Regions from separate parts of the Homo sapiens genome. Here all the other regions are linked to region 1. The links come from fine-mapping of genetic effects on gene expression. A gene starts in region 1. Each other region holds a variant in brackets. All regions are shown on one strand. Distances are between the middles of the regions.

What was found. PIP is the estimated chance that this variant, and not a neighbour inherited with it, causes the effect. A credible set is the group of variants that fine-mapping cannot tell apart.
Region 2: its variant is the best candidate, but not a certain one, in a credible set for the expression of LCLAT1 in lung (TOPMed, PIP 0.65).
Region 3: its variant is the best candidate, but not a certain one, in a credible set for the expression of LCLAT1 in whole blood (TOPMed, PIP 0.87).

Annotation. Positions count from the first base shown.
Region 1 is chr2:30,443,349-30,451,331 of GRCh38, reverse strand. It overlaps LCLAT1 (lysocardiolipin acyltransferase 1), which reads right to left and starts at 4,086. Exons shown (of 6, transcript NM_001002257.3): 1 at 3,949-4,086. RefSeq lists enhancers at 2,922-3,658, 3,856-3,975, 4,186-4,245, 4,286-4,355, 3,659-4,396 and 1 more.
Region 2 is chr2:30,646,251-30,654,233 of GRCh38, reverse strand. No RefSeq gene overlaps it. Among named protein-coding and RNA genes, the nearest start is that of CAPN13, 160 kb to the left of the region's middle. RefSeq lists enhancers at 697-1,427, 1,428-2,159. The variant A/G (reference allele first, on the strand shown) is at 3,989.
Region 3 is chr2:30,546,711-30,554,693 of GRCh38, reverse strand. All of the region lies in intron 3 of LCLAT1 (lysocardiolipin acyltransferase 1), which reads right to left. Among named protein-coding and RNA genes, the nearest start is that of LCLAT1, 100 kb to the right of the region's middle. The variant T/C (reference allele first, on the strand shown) is at 4,669.

The DNA.
Region 1 (7,983 bases):
TTTGACATCCCCACCAACAATATGTAAGAGATCCAGTTGGTCTACACCCTTGCCAACACTGGCCCCCACCAACAATATGTAAGAGATCCAGTTGGTCTACACCCTTGTCAACACCGGCACTGTCCATCTTTTTAATTTTAGTTATTCTGGAAGGTGTATAGCAGTATCTCATTATTGTTTTAATTTATATTTCCCACTGGCAAATAATGTTAAGTACCTTTTTATGTGCATACTGGCCATTCTGAGACCCTCTAATAGACAGTGCCTGTTCAAGACATCTATGCATTTTTAAAATGATTTTTCTCATTAATTTTGTTTATGCTACACACACACAAATAAACACACACACACGGTATGAGTCCTTGGTCAGATATATAAATTGCAAATTTCTTCTTCCGGTCCATATTTTGCTCTTCATTTTCTTAGTGGTGTCTTCAGATGAAGAGAAGTTTCCAATTTTAAAGAAGTCTGAAGACAAATTTATCAATCATTTTCATGATCATTGCTTTCTGAGTCCTTTTTAAGAATCTCTGCCTATTCCAGGCACTAGTCCTTTATTTGCGCTTATGGTTTCAGCAGTTCTCCCCCTTGCTTTGACTTCATGAAATCCTGCATCTTTTGCAAGATTTGCACACCCTACCTTGTAGTCGATTTGCACTGCATTCATGTTATGTTGTTAGGTGCTGGACAACTTTAGTGTTACACACGTTTAAGTGGAGATCAGCTTTAAAACTAGAGAAACCATCAGTGATTACTTCCATATTACAATGATTTCTGTACAAATATATTCAAAACCTAAAGTAAAAAGAAAAAAATTCTAACACCCATTATCCTAGCATTTTTGTAGCATAAAGTGGAAGCTATGCATCTAATCGAGATCCTTCTACAGTTCCCACTGCCCGCAGGAGAGTTCCCACTCTCTTAGCTAAGAGTTCACAACCTGGCTCTAACCTTTCCTGGCTTCTCTCCCAGCAACACCTGTAATACTGTGGTCTGACCCCTGGACACCATGAGCTCTCACTTGTCCTAGCTTTGCTCTGTTTCTCCCTACGCCTTTATCCTCCAGTTAGCTCCCTTCCTCTTCTGGCCAGGCCCATCCCAGAAGAAGTAACTGTTCCCTTTTATGTGCTCTCACAGGTCTCTGTACCCACAATTATATTTGAGTCCTTATCATGCTTTATTAGTTAATCATTTATTTATTTGTCTCAACTGTCTACAAACTTCTGGACCTGGGACTTCTCCCTGAACTCCTCAAGGGTAGGGTCAGGAGTTAATGTTTACATCCTAAAGACTTGGCAGGGCTATTCCATAAAGGTTCAATGAAACAATAAATGTCCTAGCCACTTTTACTCATCCTATTTTATTAATAAATAAAGACTGGAAAAATTAGCACAAGTATATCAAAACAACAAGCTTAACTAAAATCAGTTTTCTTTTAAAAGTCCCCCAGCAAATTATTCTTTTAAAAAATGTAATAAAAACAAAAATCCCAATTATTGATTTGTGCTTCCTGATAGAAATTAGTCATAACTAGCCAGGCACAGTGGCTCACACCTGTAATCCCAACACTTTGGGAGGCTGAGGCAGGCGGATCACCTGAGGTCGGGAGCTCAAGACTAGCCTGACCAACACAGAGAAACCCCGTCTCTACTAACAATACAAAATTAGCCAGGCGTAGTGGCACATGTCTGTAATCCCAGCTACTCAGGAGGCTGAGGCAGGAGAATCGCTTGAACCCGGGAGGCAGAGGCTGTGGTGAGCCGAGATCGTGCCATTGCACTCCAGCCCTGGCAACAAGAGCGAACCTCCCTCTCAAAAAAAAAAAAAAAAGAAATTAGTCATAACTCTGTTTCAAAATAACTTTTTAATTAATGGGCAACACAAGTAAGAAGAATATACCACTTAACCAAAGTAAATGTAATTGTTACCACACAAATCACTATTGGACGCCAATGGAATAAACCATGATTATTATTTACACAAGATCACAAACAAAACTACTGGCTTGAAATATGTGTTCATTCTAGGACATTGCTAGAGCCTTTGAAAAAGAAAAATATATATATTAAAAATGAAAAATTTGTACATGAATTAATGTTTCCCCTTAATACATAACACATCTGTATGTCATAGGAAGATAGTAGGCATGGTGGTAGTAAGACAGTAAGAACACAGGCTGGAAACACAATGCTAATTGTGTGATATGGACAAATTACTTAAACTTCAATGTGCTTCAGTTTCCTCATCTGCAAAATAAAGATAATAAATGTATCCGCCTCACAGTGATGCTAGATGACTGAGTTGGCACATATAAGTCCCCGGATTCAGTGCCTGGCAGAGTACATGAATGCAGAGGAATAAATTTCAAATATTTTCACTGTTTTTTTAACTTTTTAAAGCCCTTTCACACATACTGTCTTTTCTTTTTCCTCCCAACAGTGCAATGAGATTGTTTGAATAAGAAATACTCACTTTAGAGATAAGACACCAATAGTGAAGTTGTATGATTACCCTAAGATATTTTTAAGTGGCAGAGTTTGGACTAGAATCCACCCATAACCTCAACCCCAGGACAAACTGACCAAATCTCCATGGATCCAGTTTGGAAGAATCTTTTGGGTTTTCCCCATTGCTTCCTCCTGGTTGTCAGCAACAGCCAGCCTAAAGACCTGGTGGGGGCAGATGCAGACGACCATGTGTTCAAATTAAAAAGTAGGAGAAGCCTAGCTTTCACAGAAACTGACACATAGTTGGCACTCCAGAGATTGCAGCTATTGATGACTGAAACACAAGCGCTATTACGTTTTTCTCAGTTACAGAACAAGGTACTACTCCATAAAATCAAGCCTACTACCAAAAACAAAAGTCAGTTAACATTATGCTTATCTGTCATATCAAGCATATCAAAGTACAATGTGCAACAGAAACCTAAACGAAAAAGTGATGATGTATTTTTACTTACTCTCAAAAAATATGTTTTACAAAAAGGGCTTTCATCAAGTCAGTTTTTTGAAAACTAACCCACGTAGTTATACTTCATGAGATGACGTTTCTTTGAACAAATAAGTTAATGATATGAATAAATATTTCATCTTGGTAATGCCTTCAACACATATCTTCAATACTTTTCTTGGACTTAAAGTGACTTCAATCCCTAATCTCATCTACTGCCATGTACACAAGAAACACAGTTAATGAACTTTAAAGGCAGATGCAGTATTTCCAGGGAAGCCACCTGAACCAGGGAAGTACAAGAAAGCAAAACATCTCCACAACCACATCTAAGTGCCTTATCTTTCAACTTCTTTTCTTCAAATGGGCAATTAGAAGCTACGATACACCTTAAAGATCAGGTTTGGCATCCGCCCTGGCTAGGGCCTACCTTTCTTTTCGCGGCACTGCCACTCTGGCACCTACAGGCAGGCCTTTGGCGCCTGCAGGACTCGCAGGGAAGACAACCCCAGCCCCTGCTCTCCACGGCTCTCGTCGAAGCCCCGCACGTGGTGACCACTTGAGACGTTTTAGTGCATGGGATTTAACAGGGTCAGACCTCAGGTTGCGTTCCGGGACAGTGCAGCTCCCAGACCCGCTGAGGTCGCAGGAGGAAGGTTTTGACGCTCCTAGCGTAAACACCGACGGGACCCTCTTCGCCCCGCGGCTACCTCGCCCTCGCCGCTCGCGCGGCCCCTCAGCACCTGACGCCTCAGCCAGCCTCCAGGAGTCGCTTCCCCGCGCCTCCTTCCACCTGAGCCAGCGACGCTACCGCCACCTGCACCGGGACCCCAAATGCCAGGCCAGTGGCCGTTACCCGAGGTCGCGGCCCGGGGAAGGTCCATGGCTCAGGAGGAAAAGCCCGGGCTGCAGCTCCCCTTCCTGCACCTCTGAGATCCCCCGGCCGCCGCCATTTTCCTCGCGCCGTAACCCCACCTGATAGTTCCAGCCTCCCACCTGTGACAAGCAGGGCACGCCGCGCGACGCCGAGTGGGGTGCGTGGGCAAGCTGGGGCTCCGTAGGGGTCACAACCTCCGTGCGGAACCCGCCGTTAATTCATCCCGTAACGCGGAGGCGTCCGGCCGTCGCCCTAGTAATGCGTCCCGGAAGGCTACGTCCTGATTGGCTGCAGGCGCCGTGACGCAACGGCGTCCCCGGCTGCGTGGGAAACCCGGGTCCCCGGCGCCCCGCGCTTGCTCCACAGCCCGGGATACCCCGGGTACCTTTCTTTGAGAGCTCCTTTAAAGAGGCCTCGCTTATTTCCTCGTCTGGCCTCCTGGAGAGGAGGGACCCACGGAACGGTGGGGTGTAGGGGTGAGAAAACAACGAAATAGGAAATTAGCGGAGGTCATTTGTCCGAGGGAACCTAATGGTTCATTCAACCCCTAGAGCTGCAAAATGGAAAACAGAAATCTGGGAGTTTAATTTACAAGCCTAAATTTGGTGCGCGAAGTCACAGGACAAATCAGTAGTAGAAGCAGTTATAGAACCCAGGTTCCCTGATCAGGAGCACAAAGTTTTTCTAGCACACTCAGTGTTTCCCCAGTCCTAGAAAATGTTTCCTCCCAGTTCCCATAGCAATTTCATCACACTGCTCTTAAAAGGTCTCGATCACCTATCATGGTGTGTCTGTCCTGTCCCCTAACCTACTAGATTGCATGCCCCTGAATGGTGGGGACTGTGGTTAAACCCCTTTTCATTTCCCTTAAGCAATTCCCTCCTCAACTTGGCCTTCAACAAATACAATAAGAATCTTAAAAATAATAAACATAGCTACACATCACACACAGCCACTCATCAGTAGTTCATGTATGTCTATACGTTTTATCCGTTTATTCAACAAAGCACAGAGTGAATATTTTTAAAATTACAAGGTTCCTGACCTCACAAAATTTATGGTGTAATAATAATGACCATCTACATGTTGGCTGCATAGCTTCAATATAGCTAAATTATATCCCCAAATTGCCTGTAAATCAAAGATTCTTGTGCTCTTTTCCTAAATTAGCTTCATAATTTCTCTAAGTTTGTTCCAAAACATTTTAATATTTAAGATGTGCTAAAATTGCATCAGAAAGTGAAGAATGACTACAGAGAGAAACACCAGAACAAAAGTCAATTCTGCCAATTATGCCTATGACTTTAGGCCTCCTTTTTACCTTTAAAATAAGATTACTGGAATAAAAGATCTCCCAATTCTTTTTTGTTGTTGTTAAGAGTTGGCCTGGCTATGCTCCAGAACCTTCAAGGGCTCTACTGTGGTTCTTTGGGGGCTTGCCGGAGGTTCCTCATAGCCTTTGCAGCTCCATTGCAGAGAGCTCTAGCATTGTGAGGTGTGTCCGGTGATACAGCCCAAGAGGCAAGGTTGCCCTTACCGCCCTAACCACAGAGGACAGTGCTGGGCTCTTTCTTTTTTCTTTTCTTTGCTTTTTTTTTTTTTTTTTTTTTTTTTGAGACAGGGTCTCGCTCTGTCACCTAGGCTGGAGTGCAGTGGCATGATTGTGGCCCACTACAACCCCTGCCTCCTGGACTCAAGCAATCCTCCCACCTCAGCCTCCAGACTAACTGGAACTACAGGCATCTGCCACCATGCCCAGCTAATTTTGTGTTTTTTGTAGAGACAGGATTTCAACATGTTGCCAGGCTGGTCTCGAACTCCTGAGCTCAAGCTATCCACCCACCTTGGCCTCTCAAAGTGCTGGGATTAGAGGCTTGAGCCACCGCGCCTGGCCCTGAGCCCGTTCTTGATCTGAGCTACTGATCAGTAGCCACCTTCCACGTCAACTGCTAAAGGGATAGGAACAGAATTCCCAAGGGCAAAATATGCTGATTTCTAAACTCAGAGATCTGCTAAGTGTCATGCTTCTTTCTTTTTGGCAGAGGTGCAAGGTGTAGTAACATGTTTTTCATTCTGGGGAAAATGTCTTGACGTGCCCAAGATCATTGGACCACTTCAGCATCCAAAATGATGTATAGTTTACATAATGCTATTGTACCAGGATCATTCTTTGTTTTGATACATGTTCTATGCTTACACAAGATGTTGACATAAGGGGAAGCTAGGTAAAGAATATATGGAAAAATCCCTGTACTCTCTTTACATCTCTCCTAAGTCTAAAACTACCCCCCCAGTTTTTTAAATAATTATTTTAAAATATCACCAATGTAGCAAGCTCCTGAATTTTTGTGGGGTTTATCCGCGTCTGAAATGTATGTATTTCATCAAGACATCCAGAGAAGTAGTCCCCGACCTTTTTGGCACCAGGGACTGCTTTCGTGGAAGACAGTTTTTCCATGAACGGGGTGAAGGGTGAAGGGGGTGATTTCGGGATGATTCAACCACATTACATTTATTGTGCACTTTATTTCTATTATTATTACATTGTAGTATATAACACTTAAAAAGTGGTGTTAATCTGTGCTCTACTGTCCCAAAGGGACAAGTTTCTCAATCTTTCCTGACCCCAGTAACAGAGCATCACAGCTGATGAATTGCTGAACCTCATGAGCCATTGACTTAATGGTCACATTTAATAGGGCACTCTCTGTAATGCTCAGGGACACACTATGACATACAGGAAATCTCAAGTCCTAGTTCTTATTGTACTTTTGTCATTATTGGGGTACTTTCTATGCCCATGTAATTGCTCACTCCTCTTCAAAATGTGAGAGTAATAAGGGAAAATCTGTGCTCAATAACAGACCTCAGAAAAGAGCCAAGTACATTGCCGCCAATAAAATCGGAGCAAGTCTCTCCCAAGGTAATGAATACAAGCAACATGCAGCCCAGTGCCAGCAGAGGCCACAGATACTTAACTGGAGGCCCAGAGTGGCCCATTTATTATAGCCTACAGTTTATTGCTTGCAAGCAAGAATTGCAAAATTTCTTTTGCAATTCCCTCTTTGCAAAAATTTCTATGAATGAGACTTAGCATTACCTAATATCACCAGTCATCCAACGAGATTCTGAAATTCAAAAGGCATTTGAAATGAAATGTTTTAATTTCTTGAGACATGGAGTAAGCCATGTCTTTGGTAGCTGAGGAGTTTTGGTGCTAGAAGGTACAGCTTGGAAGTAGTGACAAATTTACATTAGCACAAAACAGCTGTGGAGTCTAATTATTAATAGTTCTGATTATTCTCTTTTTGCTCCATCTCTCCCCTTCCCCGTTCCCCACCCCCATCTTTTTTGTTGTTGTTGTTGAGACAGAGTTTCGCTGTTGTTGCCCAGGCTGGAGTGCAATGGCACCATCCTAGCTCACCACAACCTCGGCCTCCCGGGTTCAAGCAATTCTCCTGCCTTATCCTCCCGAGCAACTGGGATTACATGCATGTGCCAACCACACCTGGCTAATTTTGTATTTTCAGTAGAGACCGGGTATCTCCATGTTGGTCAGGCTGGTCTTGAACTCCTGACCTCCGGTGATCCACCCCCCTCAGCTTCCCAAACTGGTGGAATTACAGGTGTGAGCCACCTCGCCCGGCCCCACCCCCATCTTTATGCTGACTTGTCCGGCTTTCCTCTCCTGACTCCTGGTCTTTTGCCTCTGGCAGGGTTTAGCCAATGGGAGGCCCTGGCTGGACTCTGCAGGGTGGGCTGAGAAACAGCTCAAGGCTGCATTCCCCTGGCTCCCTCCCTGTGGGGCTGCAGGGTGGCAGTGGCTTCAACACTTCACGTAAGGCCACAGCTCCTTGTCTAGAGCCCAGCTCTCACTGGATTCTGGGACCCACTCCCCGCCTTGTCCCTTTAGGCAGGGCCCACAGGGTGTGTGATGGCCTAACTTATTGTGTCTAGCCTCAGGGTACTTCATTGCCCTCTGTTAATTTCCCTTAACGCTGATTGTACCTTTGTAGTCAGCCTTCAACTCTCTTTAATCATCCCTCTGTGCCAAGGGTGTCACTTGTTTCTTGTGAAAACCTAACTGATATATTGATGGACCAAAATTTCACTTAGGCTAAAAAGATACAACTACCAGAAAGTATGTTTAGAAC
Region 2 (7,983 bases), 200 kb before region 1:
AAGCCCAAGCAGGTGTGTGGAAAAGCCTGCGGGGAGGAGAGTCAAGGACCCTGGCCAAGATCCTCACTGAGCTCCCAACCAGTGGCCAGCACTGCCTGCCAGCCACATGACTGAGGCCACAGCAGAGCTCACCCAGCACCACAGGAGGCAGAAGAAATGCCTTGGCAACCCACAGAGCTGTGAGATAATGAGTGATTCTTGTTATGAAGTCACTAGGGCTTTGGAGGTTTCCTACACAGCAATAGAAAAACTCAAACACTATCTCATAGAGTTATAAGGAGGACTCAAAAAGATGATTCACATGTGTACAAAGCACAGTGCCTGGTGTAGAGCAAGACTCCATATATGCAGCTATTATTTGCACTGTGGTCATTTGATCATCATAGCAAGCTGTGGAATAGTGACCCTTATTGCTGCCCTTATACAAATGCTAATAGGTAACAAGCATGATACTGTGCAGTTTATAAGTCGCTTTCTCATACGTTATCCATATCATGGCAACATGAACCCCGAAAACATTAAGGGCCGTGCCCAAGATTACACAGCTCCTAAGTGGCTGAGCTAGATTCAAACACACATCTCCATAGCCCAAGTATAGTGTCAGTGAACCCCAAACACTGCCTCATGGGCCACAATGACTGGTCTTGGATAAAATGCAACAGTACAGAGACTTAGCTGCTCCCCAGAAAAGCTGACTTGGGATTGCGTCCTACCTATGTGATTTTAGGAAAAAACTTAACCAAGTCTTAAGTTCCACATCTGAGAAAGGGACATAATATGCTTGGCCCAGCTTTTCTCCATCACTGAATGCCATGAGATTTGAATCAAAGAATGGGTGGAAAAGGATAATGGATTTTTTTTTTTTTTTAAGAGACAGGGTCTTGCTATATTGCCCAGAATGGTCTCGAACTCCTGGGCCCAAGCCATCCACCTGCCTGGGCGTCCCAAAGTACTGGGATTACAGGCATGGACCACCATGCCCAGCCGATTTTCATTAGTTTTCTGTAAAATTCTTTGGCAGGGTCTGACCTCCTCCCATCATTACAGCAGATGTGCATCCCAAACAGGACAATTTGGGGTACAAATTGGTCTGTGTGCCCTGTCCTCTGATCAGGGAGAGCCTGGAAACATCTGGTTCCCAGTGGTGAGCTGAGGGTGAAGGGTGCTATTGGCCATCCCTGACCAGGCGTGACTCTGGCCCTGGGCCCTGGGCCAGAGGTATGGTGGATAGAAGCTGCGTTTTGTCTGCCTACCACCACCCCCATTTGGATATTTGCAAGCCCCTCTCATGGCTTATATCCCCTGACCTTCTTTTCATCTGGCCAAGAACCATGAAGCACTAGCCCGGCCCCTCCCCTGCTTGATATTTTCCTTCTCCTTCTCAATGGGAAGTTTGTGGGATGCTTCTGAAAAGTGAATGGGGAGCACAGAGCTTGGTTTAATGACATTCTCCCTTGGTGGAAAAATTGATGGCATCTCATGCCTCAGCATATCTGAGTAAAGACAGGAAGAGAATGAATAAACAAACCGCATGAATATCTGGGAAAAGAGTGCCCCCAGCAGAAGGAACCACAGAGCAAAGAATCTTGAGGCAGGAGTGTACACTTCACTCAGCTCCCCTAAATGCTGCCATCTTACATAGCCAGAGTACAGTTACCAAGCCCGAGAAATTAACGCTGACACAATATGATTAACTTATCGACAGAACATATTCACATTTCGCCAGGATCCAGTTCAGGATCCCACATTCCAGGTAGTTGTCATGTCTCTTTAGTCTCCCCCATCGACAACAATTCCTCAGCCTTTGTCTTTCTTGACCTTGACACTTTCAAAGAGGGCTGGCCTGCTGATTTGTAAATGTCTCTCACTTTAGGTGGTCTGAGGTTTTCTCAGGATCAGATTACGTATTTTTTGCAAGAATAATGTTGTGTCTTTCTCAGGGAGTACCTGACATCAATATCTCTTAGGCCTGGTGGTGTTGGCCTTGATCACTTAAGATGGTGTTTGCTAGACTTCTTCTCTGTAAAGTTTTATTTTTCCCTTTGTAATTAATGCTAGCTCCTGGGGAGATACTGCAAGGCTATGCACGTATCACGTTTCTCATATATTTTTACTCAATTCAGTATCCATCAATGATTTGTGTCTGCAACAATTATTACTGTGGTGTTTGCCAAATGGTGGCTTGCTATCTCCATCATTTTTCAACATTTATTAATTGGAATGCTACTGTAAGGAAGAGTGTCTCCTTCTCCCCATTTACTATATATTTAATTTTTTGTTACTATGAACTTATGAATATTTCCTGTACCCTGTGGGTTATCCGTTCTATCATTATTTTGTTGCTCAAATTGTTCCAGCTTTGATGTCTGGGGACGCCTTTAGGTTGGCACCTGTGACCTTTCGATGTGCCACATGAGGAGTTTTTCAGATACACCCAGCTTCACATTCCGATATCCTGATACCATCGTTCTGGAGCGAGGCCTGGCTTTTGGACATTCCCACAGCTCTCCAGGTGGTTCTGTTATTTAGCTTGGGTGAAATCCTTTGGTGTAGCTCAGTGTCATCAATTTACAGATGAGGAAACTAAGATGCAGAGAGATCAGAGATGGGAAGGGACGTGCTCCGTGTTACAGCTGTGGAGTTGAGGGAGCTGGGTCCACAGCCCTGTCTCCTGATCACCAGGCCTGGCTCTCCCCGACTCCTCCCTGTCTTTCAGAGCCCCGGCTGCCAAATCACATGCCAGACACAGACATCCAGAAAGTGGTTCTTACACCGGGGACACCCCAAGACCTTTTCAGGGGGTCCATCAGGTCAAAACGGTATTCTCTGCTCTCTGATTGGGTAGTGTTTGGGGAAATACTAAGATGTTATTTGCCTTTTTTACTCTCATTTTCTCAAAAGTGTACAGTGGAGTTGTCCAGAGGCTACATGACATGCGATATTCAGCAGGTTGACTGTGGAACAGGTATGAGAATTCAGCCTCTAGTAACCCAGACATTGAAGAGATGGGCAAAATGTAAAACAATGCCATACTTCTCACTAAATTTTTGTTTTGGAAAATAGTTATTTTTGATAAAAATTAATCATTTACTTTAACATATAATACATTTATTTTAAATATATACACATATATTCATAAACATAGATATATAAATATACATGAATATTATGACTATAAACATAGTCAAATATAAATATACATAATATACAAATATGAATATTTGTTACAGTAAATATTGATGGATATAATCCACATAAAGTTCTTTAGAGGCCTCAATAATTTGTAAGTGTGTAAAGAGGTCTCAGGACTCAAACGTTTTTCTAGAATATTCTAGAAATGGTTTTCTGCTTTTCTAGAGTATTCTAACCAAATGGGACATAACAACTTATAATAAAACAGGACCTACCCTCTACTACCTTCAAATCCTTTGGCACTGCTGGAATCTCGGAAAGTCTCCATCACCCCTTGACCTACCACCACCTGTCATGGCCCTAATGTAATCTGTTTCCACCTGGGTTATGTGCTGCACGAGAACAGCAGGCTCCTCATCTCTAATGCCTTCTGCAAAAATAAACACAGAAGGACTTAGCAGAATGCACGGGCAAAACACAGTGCACTTCACACACGTGAAAACAATAGATATTTCAAAATTAAACTATTTTAAAAGTTTCTGAGAAACAACAGGACAACTGAAATATCTGATAAGGCAATTAGCCTTTGAAGGAGCTGTAGTGGAAGTGCAATTCTCAAGTAGTAGCTGGAGCTCAGGAGTAGCAGAGGAATATCAGCCAGAGATGAGAAGTCCTTCTTTAGCATCCACACTCCTCTGGCTAGTAGGAGCAGTTTGTGCTAGTGAGTCATGGGGTGTTTTAGCCCCACAATTTAAGGAGGCAATGATAAAAATGCGGAGGTCATGTTGTTGTTTAGTTCAAACAAGTTAGAGGGAAAATAAGTTTCTTGAGCACCAGCTGTGTGACTGGTGCAAAT[A/G]TGAATAAGATCTAGTCCCAACCTTCAGGTCTGTGTGGTCTCCAGGAGACAGGGGAGAGGCCTTTAGGACAGCATAGTGGGCTCCATGATGCCAGACTGCATAGTGAGGCCTCTTCAGGAGCGGGTGCCACAGCTCAGCCAGGGCTTCTTACAGGCCACGAGCAAGGGAGCATCATTCCTCGAAATCCACTTTCTCCAGCCTGGCTGTGCGTGAGAATCACCAGGGAGGGTGCCTGTCTTCATTCTGGGGTTGGGTGAGAAGGCCGGCTGCCTGTAGTTTTGAAGTGTCCTGGGTGATTTCCATGAGCAGCCAGGGCTGAGGACCATGATTCTAAATCAGACTTTCCTCAGCCTACTATAGCCACCAGCAAGGACCAGCTGCATAATTTGCAAGGCTTGCTGCAAAAAGAAAATGGGAGGTCCTTTGTTCAAAAACTATTAAGAACTTCAAGACAGCGACAGCAGAGTATGGGCCCCTTTTGAGGGCAGGGCCCTATGCAGATGCACCAGTTGCACACCCATGAAGCTGACCCTGTCTCCAGCCACTGTTTCCCCCACAACTTCCCTAGAAGGACCCATGGCTGACTTATCCTCAGTGGCTCTCCTGAGCAGAATCCCCGGCTGGCTCCTCAAGGCAGCTGGCTCTCCAGCCATCATAGCCTCAGGATGAGTGAAGTTATCTCCACCAGAGGAGGCAGGCTGGGGACATCTTCTTGGCTCTGTGCACCCTTCTCCTCCTCGGAATGATCTCATGCTTCCTCAAAGCCCATGCCTGCTGTTGCCTGGCTGCAGGCGCAGCCTCACATTTGTCACTGTGCACTCGCACCCCCTGAGCAGTCCACCCCCTTCCTAGGCCCACTCCCTGCCACCAAAGGAACCAGCCCTGGGGAACCAAGTCTGCTGCTCCCTTCCCTGGCAGGTGCTGGGCATAAGGGGTTATTTCTTAGATGGAGTTTCAATCTTACAGCACGAAGAGTTGAAGAGAAGGGCCCTTTCTCCAGCCAGCCCATGGGATAGAAAATTCCCATTGTCAGCAAGGTGGATATAAATGGTAACAGGGAGCAGGCTGTGGTCATTTGTCATTTCATAATGGTTTCTGGAGATTGCACTGTCAGCTACTGTCCACAACACCTACTTAGCCCCTGGGCAATGGACAAGGTGGTAACAGGGTCAGTGCCCTGTGCTCACCAGGTATGTCTGGGAAGCCTTCAGGCCTGCCTGCACCCAAATTTTTGTACCAGATACAAGGCTATGCCTTGGCACAGGATGCCCTCTCTTGTTTATTTGCCCTCTTCAGTTCTGTCTGGTTGGCTTCACATTCTGGAAGCTAATGCTTCATAAACAGTGGTGGTTTTTTTTTTTTTTTTTCAGAAGGAAAAGAGTGTGTGTGCACATATACACACGTGTGCATAGGGCAAAGAATAAAGCTTATTTATTTTTTGAGATAGAGTCTTTCTCTTTCACCCAGGCTGGGGTGCAGTGGTGTGATCTTGGCTCACTGCAACCTCTGCCTCCTGGGTTCAAGTGATTCTCCTGCCTCAGCCTCCCGAGTAGTTGAGACTACAGGCACGTGCCCCCATGCCGGCTAATTTTTGTATTTTTAGTAGAGACGGGGTTTCGCCATGTTGGCCTCGAACTCCTGACCTCAAGTGATCTACCCGCCTCGGCATCCCAGAGTGCTGGGATTACAGGCATGAGCCACTGCGCCCAGCCAAATAAAGCTTATTTATGTTTGCATCTTCCCCAGTCCTAAGCCAGGGCCCCACATCCAGTAGTTAATATTTACTGAATGCAATCAACTTATAAATTACCTCGGGCTTCCAGAACACTTACGACCAAATGCTCATTTTACAAATGAGGGACCAGAGGCCTAGAGAGTGGAAGCCCTAAGTCTGAGGTCTTAGAAGAGCAAGCACCCTGGCTGCTCATGAGTATCACCTGGGAGCTTTTATGGCTCTGGAGGTTCAGGCTGCACACCTGAGCAATGAAGTCAGGGTCCTGAGGGTGGGGCCTGGATGCAGGTATTAAAGTTCTGCAGGTGATTCTAATGCACCTGGTTTAAGCGTCCTGGCCTGGGAGGGAGGAAGCAAAGCCTGGAGCCAGGCTGGGGAGAGCCCTGTCTGTGCCCTGCTCACTCCCCACAAGTGGGGATGCTTGAGAGGTCATGTCAAGGGGGCTTTTGGGGACAGTTTGCAGAGGGAGGTCTTTGGGGAGACCCTATTGGTGGCAGAAGAGCTGGCCGGATTTGATGAATGTTTATCTGGGACTCTTCCTGGCTCTGCTAAGGGACTCGCACTTTGGCTGGAAGTCCCAGGATAGGAAAAGGGGTGGCAATCCCCCTCCCGCATCCCTCCCAGAAGGTTCCTGAGTCCTCACAAGCTCCCACAGGCAGACGGCTATGGCGAGATGGTCTTCCCCATACACTGGCCTCTCAGCCGGCACCACAACTGCCCAGGACCGGCCGACCTGCTGCCTGCATTGACTAGGTGGAGTCCTATACCAGTTGCTTCAGAAGTAGACTCAAAACTACTTACCGTAAGTAGTAAAACCCTTAAGCTTATGTAGCACTTACCAGACTATTAGGTAGATGAGCTTCCATTTTCATTCTTCACAAATATACCCCAAAGTAGGTATTGTCTTGTGTTTTTGGTGACTGATTTCACTTAGTATAATATCCTCCAGATTCATCCCCATCGCAAATAACAGTTCCCTCTTTTTAAGGGTTAATATTCCAGTGTCTGTGTGTATGTGTCTCTACACACCACATTGTGTTTATCCATTCATCGACCAATGGATATTTGTGTTGCTTACTCCTTTTGGCGCTTGTGAACAATGCTGCTAAGAACATGGGAACAGCTAAGACAGTAACCAGTATAATTATACCATGGACTATTCAATCAGTTCCCCACCACAGACATTTAGGTAGTTTCCAGTATTCTTATGGAGAGGGCTATGGAGTTTTGTGTGTGCACCTTACAATTATTATCGTTTTTGTTTTGGCTAGTGTATTGTTGGAATAGGTTCTTAGAAGCAGGATTGTGGGACAAGGGTAAATGTGTAATAATTATGTTAGACCTTGGCGAGTTCTCCTCTGTTCAAGTGTAGAAGAGGGCATGGCGAAATCACCTGAGCAAGGCTTCCTGAGGGCACACATGTTGAGCCCACTTTTCTAAGAGTTCAGATACTAATATTTTGGTGAATCATATCAAAAATACTTTTATTCTTGTCAAAAAATCTATTTTCCAGAAGTAGATGGACTTGCACTTCAATTATTATTATTATTATTTTTGAGACAGAGTCTCGCTGTGTTGCCCAGGCTGGAGTACAGTGGCACAATCTCAGCTTACTGAAACCTCTGCCTCCTGGATTCAAGTGATTCTCCTGCCTCAGTCTCCTGAATAGCTGGGATTACAGGCGCCCGCCACCACACCTGGCTAATTTTTGTATTTTCAGTAGAGATGGGGTTTCACCATATTGGCCAGGCTGATCTCAAACTCCTGACCTAAGGTGATCCGTCTGCCTCAGCCTCCCAAAGTGCTGGGATTACAGGCATGAGCCACCACACCTGGCCTTTTTAAAAAAAAAAAATAAAATAAATTTAAATTTTATTTTATTTTAAATTTAAATTTAAAAAATTTAAAAAAATTTTTAAATTTTAAATTTGTAAACTTCTCCACCCAGCTTTCATTTAAAACAAACAGGATGCTTTATGAATGACTTCAAGCAAACATCATTAAGAATGTATTGTGCAAAAAGAATGGCTGGGCTGAACACTGTTTGGGATAAGAGAAATGAAAGCTTATAATCCAATGGAGGTGATAAGATTGAAAAATAACTGTAACATAAGACAGCTTGTAATACACTCAAGCGAGAGCTGCAGAGAAATATCATCCATGATAGGAGGAGGACATTTCAAGCTAGATTGAACAGGATAAGCTTCAGAGAAAAAGTGGGATTCAACTAGACTCGGGCTGGTTAAGAAAGCACCTTTCACA
Region 3 (7,983 bases), 100 kb before region 1:
ACAAATTGTGTAATTATAATAAAAAGGTTTACTGTGTGCTTACTATATGTCCAATATTGTTCCAAGCATTTTTCATTAATTCAATTAATTCTCAAGACAACCTTATGAATTAAGTAAAATTATTATCCCTATTTTATGGATGAGGAAACTGAGAGACATGAGGGCTAAAGACATGGTAAGTGGTAAAACCAGATTTTAAACACAGGCAGTCTGACACCAGACTTGATATTTTTAAATCACGGTACTAAACAACCTCTCTGCATAGATACTTGAATCTTTCCACAGGTATTAATTACACATAGTTTATATTCTCCTTAGAGAATTATTTATTTGTCAGAGATTAGATTTTCCATTTTTTAGTACTAGATACTGTTTAACATTTTCCTTAAATGTTTACTAATCCTGCAGAGTCTCATATTTGTAAAGGATGTTCTAGACTGAACAATACTGACAGGTCGAATGTATTTCTGCATTGCAAGTGAGAATACCTCTTGCTCCCCATGTGGGATGGAAGTGGTAGCAATATCCATGAGGTTTTGCTATAAAACTTTTCTAATATTTTGTTACATATCTTCTAGAAACTCCAAGCCAATGTTTCTAAATCTTTTTTACTTCTTTTAGCTTAAATGTTTTTCTCTTTTTTTCCCGATAAAAAAATCACAGGAATACCTGGCAAGGGGTTTGGGTTTTTTTCCATTTGATTGTCATCAATGCAAATTGTATCCATGTTTAAAGTGTTACTCAGATTTTTCTTAATGTTAAGATCCTCAAAAAACACATTTTTATGACATTTATTTCATATTTCTATGAGCTAATGATAGCGCAACCTGTATCTTTAAAATCAGCATATATAATTTGTCTTTTTTTTTTTTGAGACGGAGTCTCGCTCTGTCGCCCAGGCCGGACTGCGGACTGCAGTGGCGCAATCTCGGCTCACTGCAAGCTCCGCTTCCCGGGTTCACGCCATTCTCCTGCCTCAGCCTCCCGAGTAGCTGGGACTACAGGCGCCCACCACCGCGCCCGGCTAATTTTTTGTATTTTTAGTAGAGACGGGGTTTCACCTTGTTAGCCAGGATGGTCTCGATCTCCTGACCTCATGATCCACCCGCCTCGGCCTCCCAAAGTGCTGGGATTACAGGCGTGAGCCACCGCGCCCGGCAATTTGTCTTTTTCATACTTTTCCACTGCAGGATATTCTGTCTTTAACCTGAATTTCTCAGACGAGGGCTGGGAGTCTGGCAGGTTTATAAAGATAGAATCTATATATACTGGCATAGCTCCACTACCACCATCTTCTTTCTAAAACCTCATTTACGTTATCAGCATCGCCTTCTCAAAGCAGTTGTAAATAATCCCTCGGCATACTCTATTGTCCAAACCTATCTCATCATTTTAGAACCTAGTTTTGACTTACATTCCCTTTTACCAAGTTTTAGCGTTGCCTAGGGGGAGAAAAAAATAACCATTTACTTGAATGTGTATTTTGGCATTATGCATTCTTAATAAAAAGTAAGCCTTTTCACAACTTTTTTTTTTCATTTCAGTGTAGATGAATATAGTTAACTGAGTAATGAAAACATCAGCACTACTCACCTAATGCTCTAATAACTCAATCTCAACAATAGGGTAAAATTTATCACTGCTGTCCTTGTAGTAACTCAATATGGCATCTACTATGGCACTATGAATATGACACCAGAAGAAAAAGCAGGGCGGAAGAAAGACAGACAACTGCTCCTTCGACATTATTTTCAATCCTGAATAAACGATGTGGATGCAACCACAGAAATGCTACCCATAGGCCTCTATTAAATGAGAATGAACAATAGGAACAGATGCAAATTTTATATAAACTTTTATCACAAAGATCATAAGAAAATACTGTATTTACTGAGTATGGATCTGTCCATAATTAATAGTAGTTATACAAATAAATCAGGGAGTTAAGTAACAAGTAGTTATACTTTTCAGAATTTCAACTTTTATTAGGGTGCTAAATGCTGGATAGATAAAGTTAAGGAAGATCTATCTTTTCTGAACTCACATTACAAACTGGGTAATGCTCTCCACATCCCTCTTCTAAGATGATTAATTTCCACGAAGGCTTTTAAAAACTCTGATGACAGGTAATTTTATGACATTTTTGCAGCAACAATCCTGTTGTAGTATGCCTGTATCATTAGGTTTCAAATGTGACTGTGCTGAAAATACAAGATAGAAATCAAAGTATAAAATATGAGCAAGTAATAATTACATAATACTCTAACAAACTTAATTCTAAATATAATTTCAAACTTGACACACCAAAAAGTGGAGAAAAATGGAGAAACCACTTGTACTACAAATTTCACTAGACTCCACAAACATAATCATATACACATGCAGACAGTAAAAATTCTTGCTTGACAATGAGGCTTCTTGGTCATGTTACAATTTTGGGGTTCATGTTAACATGAGAGAGACCAAACTCATCTTTCATATTATATGAGATTGGAAATTTGACCAATTTTCTAAATGAGCTATTATCTGAGATATTTCTTCCTGTTGCAAAACTGATTCCTAAGTACATTCCTAGCTTTGCACACTGAGAGGACCTATAATCAAAGACATCCCAGTAGCAATTAACATATGGTAGGCAGAATAATCATCCCCCAAAAGATGTCCACATCTTAATTCCTGGAACTGTGAAGGCACTGTGTTATACAGCAAAGGGGAATTAAGATTGCTAATCAGACGAATTTAAGGTAGTGAGATTAGCCTAGATTATTCTAGTGGGCCCAATGTAATCATAAGTGTCATTAAAGGTGGGAGAGAAACCCCATAAATATATACCTACTATGTACCTATGAAAATTAAAAATAAATTTTTTTTAAGTGGAAGAGGGAGGCACAAGATGACTTAGTACTGATGTGAGAAGGACTCAACCAGCCAATGCTGGCTTTGAAGCCAGAAGAAGGGGCCACAAGCCAAGGAATGTAGGCATCCATTAGAAGCTAGAAAAGGCTAGGAAACAGATCCCGTAGCAATCCTACAGAAAGAAACCAGTCCTGCCAATGCCTTGATTTCAGCCCAGTAGAACCCACATCAAACCTCTAAAACTGTTATATAATAAATTTGTGTCCTTTAAACCACTCTATATTTGTAGTATAAGCTGCAATGGAAAACTCATACAGAGCATAGTAAGTGCCTAGATTTTAGTTTCTCACATCATTCTTCATAAAAAAAAGGGATCTAGGGCTCCTTAGCGAAATGCTGAGTCTAGGGATGGGGCAAGGAAAAATACAAGATGAACCTGGAGAATTTAAAGTGCCAAAAAAATAAGTGGTTAAAAGAAAAAAGATGGTAGTATGTCAAAAGGACATAAGAGCCAACCTTCAGGCACTCCCAGGCTAGGCGCAGTGGCTCATGCCTATAATCTCAGCACTTTGGGAAGCCAAGGCAGGAGGTTGGCGTGAGCCCAGGAGTTCAAGACCAACCTGGGCAATGTAGCGATACCCACCACTTCTCTACAAAAAAAAAAGTTGTTGTCTTTTAAAATTTATTTTAAATTAGCCAGGCAAGGTGGCATGTACCTATAGTCCCAGCTATTAAGGAGGCTGAGGCGGAAGGATTGCTTGAGCCCAGGAGGTCAAGGATGCAGTGAGCTGTGAACGCACCACCGCACACCAACCTGGATGACAGAGCAAGACCCTGTCTCAAGAAAAGAAAACTCCCAATGGCCAAAGCTGGCCATTACTTTCAGCAGCAAAATAATGATAGTACCAGATTATAATCTAAAAATTAAAATAAATATCAATGAGTCCATATTGATATTATTAAATTACTAATTAAATAAATGGGGAGTAGGGGCAAATATTTTCCACAGAAGTATGAATAATATATATAAATAGTCTGCACTCCAGGAAGTAGAGCTTCATTCCTTTCCCCCAACAGCCAGCCTTTGAGTGTGGGCTGTGCTTAGTGGATTGAGTATGTAAATGTAAAGGGGAAAACAGCATCTTTGCAGTAAAGAAACCTGACAGATACCACCTTAACTAAGTGATTAAGATTAACATCACCAGTGATAAGCCATGTTGATATCATGAACCTCTGACATGAGAAGGGTACTCCACCTCTACAGTATTCTTCCCCCAAGCCTACAGCTCTAGTCTAATCACAAGAAAACATCAGACAAACCCAAACTGAGGAACATTCTACAAAATGTCCAACCAGTACTTTTCAAAGGCACCATGAAAAGCAAGAAAAGACTATCACAAAATGAAGGAAGACTAGGAAGATACAATGACTAAAAAGCAAGGTGGTATTCTCAGTTGGATCCTAGAACCACAAAAGGACATTAGTGGAAAAATTGGTGAAGTCTGAATAAAGTCCATTGTTAATAGTATTGCACCAAAATTAACCTCTTGTTTCAACAGATATACCATATAAGATGTTAACATCAGAGAAGCTGGGTGAAAAAGATAGGAAAATTCTCTGTACTGTTATTACAAATTTTCAATAAATCTAAAATGATTCCATATAAAAAGTTTACTTCAGAACATCTATTTGTTGATGCAAACTTGTGTTTGACTAAAAAAATACACAAATAATGGCCATTTTCCATTCAAAATCAAGGCCTAAATAATCTTACTTGGAATTCGCTTACTATACCATATTACTTGGTTGTAA[T/C]AATTGAAGATTATCAGTAACAGCATTTCTAAAGATATAGTTTTGACATTATTTTCATTGTGGAAGAACATTTTTAATTCTTGGCTACATAATATGTCCCTGCCTGGTATTCATTACACAACAGTGTAACACTCAGAAACATCTGACTTCAAGCATAAGGAAAATATTTTCTGTAAGATTTGTTATATGAAATAAATGGAGAAAAGCCATATTTTTTAAATGACATATATAATAAATACAACAGCTAATTCATTTTCCCCCAGGTCTTACAATGTTGCCTTTCTCTTTTAAAATACCTGCACAATTTACAGATACTTAGCCCCAAGACAAAGAACAACTGAAGGCATGGAAGTCAAATTATCTATTAAAGTTACCAACTATGAGATACAGAGGGTTCATCTTGCATATCTTTTCTATTATTATTGCAAAGTGCCATTTCAAAGTTGGTTCAAAACTGATTATTATGTGATTTATTTCATTTGTGCTTTTCCACCAAATACAAAGCAGATTCAAAACCCTAAAGCTCCCTCCAAATTCTGAATTTCTTTCTACTGAAGTTACCATTATAAAAGCATATCTTTTAGATAATTTTAGAATGTAATTATTAATTTAAGCAAAGGAATTCCTCAATTTTCAGCAGACCTAAGGGTACTAAAAGTACTAGAGGTGAAATTCGCTTCCTAGCTCACATCTGGGATATCTAGCAGCCTAACGCAATGTAAATTTGCTGAGGTATTAGAAATAGTACACATCAACAGGATATCCAATTTAGGTAACCAATTGCATTAATGTCAGTAAGTGATTGATTAGATAACCTTAAAGCCCCCAGCCATTTCTCCTGGCCAAAGAAACTGTCAACTTCACACAGCTCAGGGCTTCAGCTCTGTTCAGAAGTCAGATAACACATTCAAAACAAAAGCTTCATTTAAGTTATTTAGATTTCAATGCCATCCTAAAAAATTACTTAGTTCTCAATGTCATTCTAGAAAGAAAGGTAATCCTGGTAAAACTGCCTGGCAGATGATTTAAATGAATTGAACCTTTCTTTTCTTCCCAATGGAAGAAAGTAAAGGCTAAGCTCTAATTTTTTATCTTGCCCAAATTCCTTTCTAAGGGATCTAGGGAGTCATGCCCTACAAACCATAAATTCTCATCACATGAGCTTTGTTTAACCCTGTATATTGTGACTTACTTTCCAGTCTTACTCAGGCATAACAAGGGAAAAAATCAAAATGTTTTACCCCAAAATATATTACCTTGCCATACTTTGAAATTGCCTTGTAAAGTTTTTTGTGGGAAAAATCCACATTATATAGATAATCCCCTTATCCCTTTATTTTCCTTCCTTTCTTTCCAGATCTAGGAGATAATCAGCTAAGAGCCAGACACCCTTTTAAATCTGATAAGAAACATTTTACAACCTGCTCTCTCTCTGAAGTTTGCTATCTGAGAGATTCCTCTGCACAAAAAAACCTGGTCTCCGCAATCCTTTACCTTAACCTAAACAATCCTTTCCATTAATCCCAGGTCTTCACATAAACTCGGCCAATTGTAAACCAGTAAATGTTTAAATTTACCTATAGCCTGGAAGCCCCTGCTTTAAGTTGTCCCACCTTTCTGAACCAAACCAATGTATTTCTTAAATGTATTTGATTGATGTCCCGTGGCTCCCTAAAATATATAAACCCAAGCTGTACCCCGACCACTTTGGGCACATGTTCTCAGGACTTCTTGAGGGCTGTGTTACAGGCCATGGTCAATCACATTTGGCTCAGAATAAATCTCTTCAAATATTTTACAGAGTTCGATTCTTTTCGTCAACAAACGTATATCCCCACTACTTACCACCCTCCCGGCCATGCATCAAAACTCATCTCGGCCAAGCAATGCTGGCAACCAAAACTACAAAATCAACAATTACCAAAACTTTATGTTTCAAATACCAATAGAATTGCTAAAATGAAATAATCTGTTATATATCTAAAAACAAGCAGAGATGTATGTGTGTCTTCCAGGCAACAGAACTAAAATATGTTTAACATATTCTACTTTATTTGATGGTTTTCATAAAAATTTTCATTCATGACTAGCATTAATAAAATTTACTGAACGAGTAAATCAAACAATGGATACATTTCTTATGGCTTGGTGAAATAGGGGAAAGCAAGTTACATCAGGATGCTTTTGGCTATAAATAACAGAATACCAATCTAAAAGTCATATAAACAATTTGGGTTTACGCTTCTCACGTAAAATAAAGTCTGGCCCCAACGCTAGTTCAGGAGCCAGGATCTCCCACTCTACTATGCCATCCTCCTGATGTCTGAGGACCTCCCCCTCTTTGAGGGAATGCCTGCAAAAGTTCCAAGCCTCATGTGCTAACACAATACTGTCCACAAGCAGAAAAGAGTGGCACTGGACCTTCATTGACTTCTTTCATCTTATTAAGGAGGAGTATCTTTCCCAGAGACTCCAACAGACTCCCATAAGACCCTTTGGTTAGACTGGCTCAAACAACCATCCCTGCTGACAGGAGGCTGAGAAAGCCAGTATCTGGTATTTTCATTCTCTGTCATAGGATGTGTGCATCACAGTGGTTCACTGTTAAGATTAGTAAAATACTACTTCTGACCTTTAGTTATTAAGTAATATGTGGAATAACACAGAGGAAGAAGGCTGTTGTGAAGCTTTATATGATTATTTAATAGGATACCATAATCTTATCAATATAATAAAGAAGGCCAGGACATCAGAAAGTTTGCTGTGACAGTAATAGCTATAGCATAGTTAATAAGTAGCTAGGAATCCTTGACTAGAAGCCCCCTTTGAAGAAAGAGTCACAGGTGGAGCTTCAAACACACTAGCTGCAGAGATTCATTCCAGGAAGGCTCAAGCTGTTGTTACTTTTGGGTAATAAGGCACCTTTACCTACTGTAGGTAGCAAAACTAATGCCTATGATTGCACTAAAGGAACTGGCAGGAGTGGAGTGTTACTGAGTCCTGTGGGGGCTTAATTTGGGAAGGGACAACTAGCATGTGAGTTTCCTGGCACAAAATCGCCAATAAGATGAATCTATTCATCTTAATACATTCATCAATAAGATGAATCCATTCATCTTATTCTTGTTATGAGCAGGAGGGCAGCATGAAATTGTGTTGAATTAAAAAAAGAACCCACCAAACTGGATAGAGTCAAAAATATTCATGACTTTGTTCTAATTTTAGTGAATGTCTGTTTTAAGTAGGAGGAAGCTGGGTAAGAAAGGGGGAGTTTTCCTTCTCACAGGAGGTAAAGTTAGGCATTATAGATTTTAA